Linked DNA regions of Homo sapiens: regions 1, 2 and 3 are each reported to be linked to region 4. Evidence: microRNA targets listed by miRTarBase, many of them from high-throughput screens and not tested one by one. Region 4 holds a microRNA gene; each other region holds the end of a gene's coding sequence.

The links. Region 4 holds the annotated microRNA hsa-miR-3945 (AGGGCAUAGGAGAGGGUUGAUAU, at 2,141-2,163, opposite strand). A microRNA usually pairs through its seed, bases 2 to 8, with sites in the 3' UTR of a target mRNA and lowers its output. Matches are read on the target gene's strand: a 7mer-m8 pairs with bases 2 to 8, a 7mer-A1 pairs with bases 2 to 7 and ends in A, and an 8mer does both.
Region 1: the mRNA of DDX47 is a reported target of hsa-miR-3945. Seed matches in the 3' UTR shown: 7mer-A1 at 818-824.
Region 2: miRTarBase lists POLD3 as a target of hsa-miR-3945. Seed matches in the 3' UTR shown: 7mer-m8 at 2,447-2,453 and 8mer at 956-963.
Region 3: miRTarBase lists RPL41 as a target of hsa-miR-3945. Seed matches in the 3' UTR shown: 7mer-A1 at 795-801.

The regions. Positions count from the first base shown.
Region 1 is chr12:12,829,044-12,832,161 of GRCh38, forward strand. DDX47 (DEAD-box helicase 47) reads left to right here. Exons shown (of 12, transcript NM_016355.4): 12 at 380-938. The coding sequence ends at 511. Among named protein-coding and RNA genes, the nearest start is that of DDX47, 17 kb to the left of the region's middle.
Region 2 is chr11:74,640,437-74,643,554 of GRCh38, reverse strand. POLD3 (DNA polymerase delta 3, accessory subunit) reads right to left here. Exons shown (of 12, transcript NM_006591.3): 12 at 479-2,991. The coding sequence ends at 2,789. Among named protein-coding and RNA genes, the nearest start is that of POLD3, 49 kb to the right of the region's middle.
Region 3 is chr12:56,116,912-56,120,029 of GRCh38, forward strand. It overlaps RPL41 (ribosomal protein L41), which reads left to right. Exons shown (of 3, transcript NM_001035267.2): 2 at 278-300; 3 at 571-1,056. The coding sequence ends at 613. It overlaps ZC3H10 (zinc finger CCCH-type containing 10), which reads left to right and starts at 1,355. Exons shown (of 3, transcript NM_032786.3): 1 at 1,355-1,407; 2 at 2,177-2,240. RefSeq lists a silencer at 1,030-1,079.
Region 4 is chr4:184,848,926-184,852,043 of GRCh38, forward strand. It overlaps MIR3945 (microRNA 3945), which reads right to left and starts at 2,185; the gene lies at 2,088-2,185. It overlaps MIR3945HG (MIR3945 host gene), which reads right to left. Exons shown (of 3, transcript NR_132989.1): 2 at 1,570-1,674. RefSeq lists a silencer at 497-566 and an enhancer at 1,635-1,704.

The DNA of each region.
Region 1 (3,118 bases), not on the chromosome of region 4:
GCCAAGGGACATACACAGTTAAAATTTGAATTCATACAGAATGCCAAATTGTCCCCCGCCCCAAGAAAAGCTATAGCAGATTGCACTATAAATGAGAGTATATGTGAATTTTTCTACACCTTGGCCAATACTGGGGATTACCCTTCTCTTAAGTCTTTGCCAATCTGCCATGTGAAAATAAAACCTTACTTTAGTGTTCACGTTTTGATTACTAATAAGGTTAACATCTTTGTATATTTGGAGTTGGGTCTTGTTCCTTTGCTAATGTCAGGCATCAGCAAGTTACTTGATACTTGATCTTAAGGAGAGGGGACTAGAATGAGTAACCTTCAGTGCCAGTAATTCATTTTCAATCCCATCCTCTCTTTTTTTCTTGCAGGAGTTAAGGGAGCATGGAGAAAAGAAGAAACGCTCGCGAGAGGATGCTGGAGATAATGATGACACAGAGGGTGCTATTGGTGTCAGGAACAAGGTGGCTGGAGGAAAAATGAAGAAGCGGAAAGGCCGTTAATCACTTTTATGAAGGCTCGAGTTCTGCTGTTCTGTAAAAGAGAATTGGAGAATGAAACCTGCTCCAACAGAGATCATGAGACTGAAATTGGTCAGAATTGTGTCCAGAATGTGCTCAGCTAATTCAGTATTCTTCCCCATTCTGGGTTGGAGTTTACTGCAGAGTAATTCTTACAGTGCTGATGTCAAGACTGTTACTGTTCTTCGACTTTGATTCCTTGCTCATGACATGAGTAGGGTGTGCTCTTCTGTCACTTCACACAGACCTTTTGCCTTTTTTAGCTGCAAGTCAAGGACTAGGTTGATGATGCCCATGACCTGTAATTGTAAAGAAGCTTGGACATCTGCAAATGATATTTAAACCATCTTGGCTTGTGCTTTATTCAAACTAATGTGAAACAATAAATTTAAATATTATTTTTAAAAGATTCTAACTCCTTAAAGACCTTGGTGTTAAAGGGCCTTATAGATTTAAGTAAGATCTTGTTAATAGGTAAGAACCTGACAGTGTTGATTACATGGCAAATTCATTGGTTGTCCTAATTAAGATAAATATTTATTACTTAAAAAAATCAACAAGGAAACGAGATGATGGATGGCTTTGAAAGGGAAGCCCCAGCCGGGTGTGGTGGCTCACGCCTGTAATCCCAGCACTTTGGGAGGCCAAGATGGGCAGATCAGGAGGTCAGGAGATTGAGACCATCCTTGGTAACACCGTGAAACCCTGTCTCTACTAAAAATACACACACAAAAAAAACATTAGCCTGGCGTGGTGGCGGGCGCCTGTAGTCCCAGCTACTCGGGAGGCTGAGGCAGGGGAATGGTGTGAACCCGGGAGGCAGAGCTTGCAGTGAACCTAGATCGCGCCATTGCACACTCCAGCCTGGGCAACAGCGAGACTCTGTCTCAAAAAAAAAGAGAAGTTCTACTTAAAAAAGGAGGTTGTGTTTTTCTTGCAGATGGAGCAAAGTCTATCAGTAAGACAGCAGAGGTCTTTAAAATCCCTAAATAGATTTACTTCCTTCATTCCCTCAATTAAGCAGGTGGTTAGGAAGACTGGTTTCTCACATAGACTCTTTTTTTTTTTTTTTTGAGATAATCTTGCTCTGTCATCCAGGGTGGAGTGCGGTGGTATGACCTCAGCTCAGTGCAGCCTTGACCTTCCAGGCTCAAGTGATCTCCCACCTCAGCCTCCTGAGTAGCTGGGACTACAGGCACATGCCATCACGCCTGGCTAATTTTTATATTTTTTGTAGAGATGGGATCTTGGCTTGTTACCCAGACTGGCCTTGAACTCCTGAGCTCAAGAGATCCATCTGCCTCGGCCTCCCAAAGTGTTGGGATTACAGGTGTGAGCCACTGCACCCGGCCTCTTTTTTTTTTTTTTTTTTTTTTTTTTTGAGATGGAGTCTTGCTCTGTTGCCAGGCTGGAGTGCAGTGGCACAGTCTTGGCTCACTGCAACCTCTGACTCCCTGGTTCAAGCGATTCTCCTGCCTCAGCCTCCCGAGTAGCTGGGATTACAGGCACTCACCATCATGCCCAGCTAATTTTTGTATTTTTGTAGAGATGGGGTTTTGACATGTTACCCAGACTGGCCTTGAACTCCTGAGCTCAAGAGATCCATCCACCTCAGCCTCCCAAAGTGTTGGGATTACAGGTGTAAGCCACTGTACCTGGCCTCTTTTTTTTGAGACAGAGTCTTGCTCTGTTGCCAGGCTGGAGTGCAGTGGTGCGACCTCAGCTCGCTGCAACCTCCAACTCCCTGGTTCAAACGATTCTCCTGCCTCAACCTCCCAAGTAGCTGGGATTACAGGCACGCACCACCATGCCCAGCTAATTTTTGTATTTTTAGTAGAGACAGGGTTTCATCATGTTGGCCAGGATGGTCTTGAACTCCCAAGCTCAGGTGATCCACCTGTCTCGGCCTCCCAAAGTGCTGGGATTACAGGTGTACGCTGCTGCACCCGGCCACTCTGCCTCTTATGTAGATTCTTTTCCCCAGGTGACAAGAATAAAATCAATATGCCTCAGAAATGTATAATTCTGAGACCTAATTTCATCCACTTGTCATTAGTGCCCACTGGCCACTCATCTTTTTTGTCCTCATCTATTAGGCGATGCAGGAGATGTAGAGCTGGGGCCTCAGCTCCAGGGGAGGAGGTAGGCATTGGCACTCTAGGGGCTGGTTGTTGGGGGAGGGTTACTGAAATTCAGAAACAACTTGGAAATTCCCAATCACAAACAGTCTCATGTTCTGAGGATGTTTACACATAGAAGATGCCTAATACTTTTTGTTGTCTATAACAGTTTTATTAGAAGAGTGTGTCTGGAGTGGCAGAACCAAGGTAAAGAGCGTCTAAATAATCACTTTGATGGATTAAGATTGGAATGAAGTTTGGCTGAAAAGAAACTTTCCTTATCCATCTAAGTCAGAGTATCTGGTGAGGAGTAAAGAGTAGGAGGCAGGCCGGGCGTGGTGGCTGACGCCTGTAATCCCAGCTCTTTGGGAGGCTGAGGAGGGCAGATCACGAGGTTAGATCGAGACCATCCTGGCTAAAACGGTGAAACCCTGTCTACTAAAAATACAAAAAATTAGCCGGGAGTGGT
Region 2 (3,118 bases), not on the chromosome of region 4:
TTGCTCCAGGAAGACTGCCTTGATACCCATCCTCCTGGGAACTCTTGGAGGACCCTGTACATTGCACTCACATATGGCACTGTCATTTCATTTTACTGGCTTTCCCTTCCACTAAATTGTGAGGATCAAGTGCCAAATTCTATGGTTTCTATTATATCCTCTAGTCCCCAGGTCATGGGCTTGACACATAGTAGATACACAATAAATGAACAGTAAATATAGGCATCTATAATTCCTTCAGTAGGAAAATATCTACTCTCTTTAAACCTTTCATGAAATAGGACAACTATCTTCCCCTTTTTACTACATGTACAGCCAGAATGACTGAAGAATATACCACCTGGGTCGTATAACTGATAACATTTCAGGAAGCTGCTAGCTGATTACATCACTTATGACATCAGAAAGAAAGCCACCATTTTGTAGAGCGCGTATGTGACCGCCAACATGGACCGAATTCATGCTACATACACTTGACTTTAGTCTTGACACCCTTGGTAACTCATTTTAGTTTTATTTTGATAAAGAACTTGAGGCTGTGAAACTTGCCCACAGTCATACAGCTAGCAAGTGATGAAGCCAAACTAATACAATGTGCTAGATTTTCTTCTAGATGAACTAAAAAATGAGGTTGGCTGAAACTAACATTTCCCCAGTGCTGAAAAAAACGATGAAGGCAGCAAATAACTTGTTCATCTCAGACTGTGGGTATGCAGTTTTAACAATATCAACTGAAAACCAGCCTTCTTCCCATTCAGAGCTTAAATAATTGCAACACTGTTACCATCCATCAAATAAGAGACTCATCAGATACTCAGTTTGAAGCACTGTTTTAAAACAACTTCTCAAATTTATTTAACTCATGTGGTTAACATGGTATTGTATAAAAAGAAAAAAAAAACACCACTCAATACTTACTAAGCCTTGCAGACAGCTCAGAGTTGAGGCAGCATATTGGGCATAGAGATCATAGGATTTGTATTATCCCTTGCAAGATGGAACTCCAACCAACACCAGAATTTTCCAATTCAAATTCAGTTTTAGTCGAGACCCCAGCATAATTTTTAGAAAAAAGATTGGATTGTTGCTTTTCTTTTAATTTTCCATTCCTATTTAGACAAATGACCAGAGGCAATGACAAAAGTAACTGTTTAAAAGGGATTTCTCTCCAGAAGTTTTTTCTAAAGGTTTAAGTCCAGGCTTTCCATCCTTCTCTCCATCCTTTTTCCTTTTAAAAAGAAGGGTTTTGGAATATGTCAACCTTTACTCAGCTTGCTATACAAAGCCACTGCTTTAGTCCTAGACATAATGCCAGGACTCATCTCCCAAACTTCTGGTCTTAATCAAGTTCATGCTTGGTTGCTAAAGAAGCTCATGTTAATCCCAAAGTCAGCACAATCCCAACCTTAAAAAGCAGACAGCTGATTGCATCACTTACGACATACACCATCTTGAGGCAAAAGAAGCCAGTCAGACACCCCTTGTCTGCTACGTGTGAGACACATCAGCAGTTGAGCCTGACCCCTTCCGCAGAGCTCACTGTGCAAAATCACCAGCACACCACTGCAATCCACTGAGCTCACCGCCTGTCCAGCCATAATGGAAGTCACTTGAAGGTTATCATTGTAATAGATGATTTTCCATAAGTAACTAATAAAAATGTTTTCTTTGATGTTTAGACCTACTAACAATTCAGTCTCTCCCTCTCCATCCTCTCTTAGGGAGCCTGTACTTTTAAGCAAATAGGGAAGCTAAAAATACAAAGGAGCAACATCCATTTATAAATAAATGTGTGCCTTATCTTCCTCACTAACTTCCTGGAAAAGTGCTGTTTTTGAATATTCTGTTTTCTTAAGGAGAAATTTTTTGTAAATGTAGCACACTGTATATAGGAAGGGATTTCTCTTTTTAGTCTTTATCTCATTGTACGGGTTTCACTCTCTAGGTATTGAGAGTGGGGGAGGAGGGGATCAACAAACCGCAAAGAGCAGCATAAAGCACACCCCGTATCAGCAGCACGGCAGCTCCTCCAATATCGTCAATGCTGACTCGAGGTAATTTCTGGTGGAGTTGAACACATCATTAAATTTCTATTTGTGTTCTGCCTGAGGCTTTTCCCTAACCACTAATTGCAAGTGAAGGTCCCAGAGAGCTTTTGTGAAAGGAACAGAACACAAGCCACGTCCTGGTCTGTAGCCAGGTGTCCGTGTACTGCATAATGGAGGAAGAGGATTACAGGGAGATTTTCACTTCAGCCTTTAGTCCAACCAAAACTTAAAAGACTTACAGAGAACAGCCTCAGGAGGTTAGGGGACAGAAGTGTGGTACTGCAGGAAGACAAGAGGGGTAAACGTATCCAGCAGAATGTAAGGATAAGAAACACCCACATGAATTCTTAGAATACAGAGGAACAAGAAGGAATAATTCCTGTGCCATATGCGGACCAGGGCATAGGGTGAGTGGAGCACAGTGGGTTAGCCACTAAATGGCTTCAGTGAGAATTCTGAAAACTGTTCCAGTATAATTTTGGAGTAAATCCTTCTCCTGGACAGGTCAAAGACTGTGCTTTTTAAATGTCATTAGAAGGTAACAGCTTTTTGCCTCCTGCTTCCAGATGATTTCCTTTTGGTTAAAAACCAGAAATAGTATAAACCTCACAGGATGAAAGAACAGTCTTTTGATACAGGTGAGGTGGAGATCTAGATGAACTTACATAGTAAGTGAGGAGTACATTTCTTGGTCTTCTCCCTTGACCACTCCAAGTCTCTGATCTACCAGAGATGGCAGTTTATTTCCTCTGGAAGAAGCCAGTAATGGACACCTGTCTGTTGGCTTTGCCCAGAGCAGCAGTCCCTTTCTTGGGGCCCTTTCGTTCCTCTCTGGGTTCTTTTTTCACAGTCATGGCAGGGGGTCTGTGTACTGAGGATGTCTTCATGTTAAGCTCCTCTTCACTATCTGTGCAGGATTCACTCTCGTAGACTTTTTCAGTCACTGGTAGGATGAGAAAAAAATGGAACATGGGTGGGCTGAATCATTTACTCTATGAAGAAAATGGGATGTCTTGCTAACCCCAATCATTTCAGACTCTGATCAAGGCAAATATGCTTACTTAGGACTC
Region 3 (3,118 bases), not on the chromosome of region 4:
AGCTGGTGGGAGAGAGAAGGTAGTTTGTGAGAGAGCTAGCGGTTAAGTGCTATGGGTAGAGAGGGTGGGCTTAGAAAAGGGTGGAATTCTGATCTTATGTTGGGAGGGTGTCCAAGTTACTGATGTAGTTGTTACGACCAATCTTTCATACTTCTTGGTTAAGAATCTGTCCGGTTCTAAAGAGTGCATTTCATATCCTTGCTAAGCCTACTAATAAGCTTCATCCCTTTTTTTTTTTTTTTTTTTTAATTATCTGCTGCTTGTGATCGGTTGCTAGTGGAGGAAGAAGCGAATGCGCAGGTACGTTGAGACTTTGCCAGCCCAGGAGGAGGGAAGTTCCTTGGACAAAACTTAGGAGAAACATTTGGTTTGGAAATCTTAAAAGATCTTTAGGAGAAAAACGTTTGAGTGTTTTCTCCCTGGAGCCAGGATTTAACAGAACAGAGAACGATAGAACCGTAGTGCTTGTTCATTTTACCACCTCATTCTTTATGTGGACGTTTGATTTAATGTGGGAGGGAAAGGCAACTCTGGTTTGAGGTGTATTCCATTCCTGTGTCTGCTTTTCAGGCTGAAGCGCAAAAGAAGAAAGATGAGGCAGAGGTCCAAGTAAACCGCTAGCTTGTTGCACCGTGGAGGCCACAGGAGCAGAAACATGGAATGCCAGACGCTGGGGATGCTGGTACAAGTTGTGGGACTGCATGCTACTGTCTAGAGCTTGTCTCAATGGATCTAGAACTTCATCGCCCTCTGATCGCCGATCACCTCTGAGACCCACCTTGCTCATAAACAAAATGCCCATGTTGGTCCTCTGCCCTGGACCTGTGACATTCTGGACTATTTCTGTGTTTATTTGTGGCCGAGTGTAACAACCATATAATAAATCACCTCTTCCGCTGTTTTAGCTGAAGAATTAAATCATCTTGTCTATTATGTTTTTTATGGTTCCATCGGGTGGGGGTTTTCTGTCATTAGAGTTTGCCCTGTCACTACCTGTGCTATGGAGGGTATCAAAGCTATAAAGGCAACAGCCCGGGTTACGTGGTGTGGTTTGCATCTCGCTGGAGTTGGATGGGATATGGTACGTCTCTGGAGGCAGGTTTTAGGTTTCGCGGGTTATTAGGGGCCAATGCTGGTACCGCCCCTTTCCAGGAGGGCTGCCTTGGCGACTACCGCTTAGACCATGTCGTGCCTTTGGGTTGGGTTGCCATAGTGACACGCAAAGCGTGCTGGGAACGCCCTGCGGCATGTCGCACGCGTACTTCATACACCATAGAGTATGGTTCCGGGTCTGCTGGCTAGAGCGTCACTTCTTCCGCAGGAAGCGGAAGAGCGATCGGGTAGGCGGCTCTTTGTCGAAGCTAGAGGACCGGCAGGCGGCAGCAGCAACTACGGCGGCGGCGGCAGGTGAGGGAGGCGGGAGACTTAGGTGGAGGCCGCGCCCGGAGGGGAGGAGTCGGGGCCGGCCCAGCGGCTGGGCTCGGCCAGGCCACAGAAGGCCCCCCAGAACCGAGCTGGCTCGTCCTCACACCCCAGGGCAGTGCCCCTTTTCTGAGTGACCCCGCATCGCGAGCAAACGCCAGCTTCGTGACGTCACAACCCTGCCCATCCCCTCAGCTTGATGACACCTGGAGCTCCAGCTCCCCGCTTCACTTCGCGCGCCCTTAGTGTCCCATTCACGTAGCCCACGGCTGAGCGCCGGCGGCACTGCACGGAACCTGCCAAGCTAGAAGACTTGCTGCGGGAAAACTCCTAGGACTTCTTTCGCAAACTCTAGGGTGTTGGGAAGCGTCACAATCACTGCCTTCAAGTCTAATCGGCCATCCCAATGCACTGTCAGACGCTGCCTTTTTGAGGTTCCTCACTAGCCATTACTAACTCCAGCCCTTGGCGGTGCTCTGACCCTCACATCCTCTTTCATCTTGAGGCAGGGCGCCCCGCACTCTTTGTTCACTCAGGGCTGGTTTTCCAACCCCTCCTCCCAGTCCCTCCGAATTAGTTTTACTCTTCTTACTGGCAACTTCTCCCTTGGACAGGTGAAGTTCAGTTTGAACCCTGAGGAAATCCTCACGTTCTCGAAGCTTTGCCGTTTTGTCAGATTTCTTGTGACAACCACCCCATAGTCCTCCACTCTTACTCCTTCTTCCACCCAAGTCTCTGTTTTTTTCCTGCTCAGAACCCAGCAGTGATGTGGAGGTGGAGACCCACAGGAGCCCCGGACTTCACCTGAGCTACCTCAGGTATCAATTCTGGGAGAGTGGGGTGGGGAGGAGCATCATAACTAATTATCTGCTGCTGGTGCGACTTGCAACGTGAGCCAGGCTTGGATAGATGGCATTTGTACTTCACCTGGTCATTCCCCTTTACTAAAAGTTTGTATCTTCTTTTACCACTTCTTTCCTTGATTGCTTCTATTATTCTGGGACTACCTCTCTTTAGAGGAGGAGGACCCTCTTACAGATTCTCTTGTAACTCTGGCCTCTGGTTTGGTTAGTTCATTTTAGGGAGATCTGAAGGCAAAGTCACAGTAGTGGGGTGGGGGTAGGTCAAGGCCAAAGGAATTAGGAAAGATTCCCTTATTCTCAAAGGGAACAATATGAAGTTTTCCTATTTCAGCAGCAGGGGGAGCCTGAACACCGCATAGGAAAGGCTTGGGAGGTCAGACACGTGGTAGCAGGGACTCCAGGTCTTACTGGGGGTGGAGAGAGGGGAGGGCTAGAACCAGGGCAGTGGACTGACATTCCAAAGCTCTCTTGGGAAATAGGAGACTTAAAAAGCTTTTATGGAGTCTATAAATAAAGAGGATCTTTCTGGGTTGAGGAATGGTGTGGTTGGATGTCAGTGGGATCTTCACATAGGGGAGTAGGAAGGGGGTGGGGAATGGGGAAAGGTCACTTGTTCCTGTGAAATTAACTCCTTCCCACTTGACCTTATCACAAATGGTTTGTCCTAGGAAATCTAGAAGTGGAGACTCTAACTTAGAACTCCTATCCTGAAATAGAAGGGGCTTACCTCTCTGCCGTTGACAGTGATGATGGCTGGGAGGGAATACTAAAATATGACAGGTTTTGAGACTCCCCTCAAGCTGGTGACACCAGTCTCTTCACCCAGGATTTCT
Region 4 (3,118 bases):
TGAAATACACAAAAACTCTAATCAGGCATTAAATAATAATATAAATTTAAAAAAAACACAAATTTCATTATATATCACAATAACCTTTCAAATAGGCAAAGCAAATATTATTTGTATTTTGCAAATAAAGGAACACAACTGAGAATTGGAGTAGAAAGGTGGATTTGCAATGAATTTAATGAAGTTTTCACTTTTAGAGCCCCTCACTAGCACTGACACCTTCTTCCGAGGCCCCAGAGGGGACCCAGAATTGTGTTCACATGGTCATATGTTTCGTAAATGTTCAGAGGTAAAGTATCTTTACTACAACTAGTTAAGTCTGCTGTACCTTCACTTCAGCCTCCCTTCCATCACATCCCCTTGCGTCAGGTGTTACTGGGCATTTTGGAGACCCAGCTAAGGGGAAATTGAGTTATAGCTATATTTAGTTTTGGTGGAGTAGGTTATAATGATGTGGTTTTCAGTAACTTCAACACATGGTTAAGTTATTACTGGGCACCCCAGTGTAGAAATGACTTCCAGGAATACTCCTATGGCTTACTGACTAACTCAAACAGCATTGTGACACTAAAGTCCAGGACCAGAGGTCATACTGTGGTATGACTGTATCTCCTAGTACCCAGAATTCGCATGAAAATATATGGGTAGTGGAGAAAAACAAGGTTTGAAAAGTACATCGCCAGAAGCTAGTCTGTGGAGAATTCTTCCAATCAGATATAAAATTACAAGGACAATACCTTTGTGTATAGTTCTGGCTTTTAAAATCTTTTTAATGTTTCACATATTCAAAGAACAAACTTAAAATGAATAAGGTCCGGCAAGGTTACAGGATTAAGAGCAATGTACAAATATTAATTGTATTGTATACAGTAGCAATGAGCAAACCAAAAATGAAATTAAGAAAGTAATTTCACTTAAGATAAAAATTCTAAAATACTTAGAAGTAAATTTAACAAAGATGTACAAAACTTATACTGTGAAAACTACAAAGCTTTGTTGAAATAAATCAAAGAAGAAACCAAATAAATGTAAAAACAGTCTATGTTCATGGATTGGAAGATTTAATATTCTCAAGATGTCAGTGTTAACATAACAAGATGTGTGTTATACTTTAGTTTTTAAAAAATGGCCAAAAACGTGGTGGGATAGTTGAATATGATTCATCCTTCCCAGACCCACATGACCTGAACACTGTGATGCGTTATAATGGCAGGGAGAGGAATTTTGGATTCAACCTGATCTGAATTGGAACCCTGGCTTTATTATTTACTAATGTATGTCTTTCCTCATTTTTTCTTGATGTTGCTGGTTCTGATTTTCTTCATTTGCTCAATAAGGATGATAAATAGCTACTCCTCAGGGTTGCTGTGGGGATCAGATATGATACGAGTAAAGGGCTGGCACTACTGGTTTCCTAAACCCAACTCCCTTCCATCTTGCCCATGTCCCATGCAGGTATTGGAAAACCCAAGCATTGACTCTCCAGACCAGCCTCGCACCTAAGAACGCCGTGGGATGCAGTTTCAGACAGTGAGAAATCTGCTGGGGATGCCTGGGAAAGGGACATACCTGGCAGGTGCCGCTCCATGGCCTTCTTGCTGCCTTGAATTGGGACATGAGCCTGAGTCGCAGCAGCCGTCTTGTGACTGAGAGGTGGCAAGCAGGAGGAAGAGGCTAAGAGAATAGAGACACTGTTGAGCTGCTGAAGCACAGCAAGCGGCCACTTCTCTATGCTTCTTGCTATTTGACTGTTAAGCTAGTGCAAGTTACTTTTCTGGTCAGAATGAATTCATAACTGAAACATGCTTTAAAGTATGACTATTATTATTAAATGCAGCATAAGCTTTCCATAGCTGCTACACGATCACACCCACTGCTGTCTCAGACTGACCAGTGGCCGACTAAACATGACAGCAAGTACTGTTGCCAGCCTCTGCCTTCTTATACTTGTGGAGTTTGTTTAAATCTAAATTCAGGACTCACCCTGTTAAATTTTATCTCCTTAGCTTGTCCCCTTCTTTTCAGAGATTTGCAATTCAAATTAGTATTATAACCTCAATTGATATATGGCTGTGGACCAGTCAGGAATCATTGAATCATCCCCCACTTTGGAAAGCATAAGAGGCTGTAATTGCATTTTATATCAACCCTCTCCTATGCCCTCCCCGTCACGTGCATCAACATCTCTTTTCTCTCAGAAAGACCTCATCTTATTTGAGGTGATATTTGAGTACATAGTTCCTTTTAGGGTACTGGGGACCTTTTTGGTGGTAGGGTGGAGAGTGTGCACCACAGAGACTAGTCACCAAGAGTCCCTGCAGTTAAGTCTGCGTATCCTGTGCTGGTGAAGGGTGGATGGGCTTTATGCAAATCTCTGCTTGGCTGCAGAATCTCCCAGTGAGATGAGCAAGGGTGCTTTGCAGTCAGTGTTGAAACCCCAGAAGAGCAGGAAATGATGCTGTTCCTGCCCAAAGGCAGAATGAAATGCAAGGAAAGGAGAAAAACATTATGACATAAGTATTAAGAAAGATGCTGTTTACGGGAACTCTGAAAGACTGGAATTCAGAGCCGCTACCAATTAAGAAAGTTAATGATGACTTGCAGCAGGTTTGCAGAAAGTGAAAGGAAGGTGAGGCTATTTAATTGCCACCATAACAGAAGAACTTGTAGAAAATAGGAATGGGATCACAATCATTATTAACTCATAAAAAATTTATAGGGTGCCATTTCTAATACGACACTGTGCAGGGATACTGCAGTCTAGCGTTACCTCCAGTTTAGACAGGCTGAAATACATACAGTTTCTCATCTGTATGAGATAAGGTGATATAAAATGAAGCTGATCGGGCTAGTTTATTGGATAAAACCAACAACGAAGGGAAATAAGTAACTATTTATACAACATGGTAACTATCTACATTGTTCATTAGCAGACGATGTTTGTAACTGGAGATGAAATGCATTAAGCATGTTTGGGAAAGGAATAAATGGGATGTAACCATGGAAGTCCTATGCTTAACCAGGGTGGGGAGGGGGGCAGGGATATAGAGAACTTCAACTAGACAGGCCTGGTGGAGAAAGTGTGTGTCTAAGAATTACTTGCAAAGTGAGCTGTGTC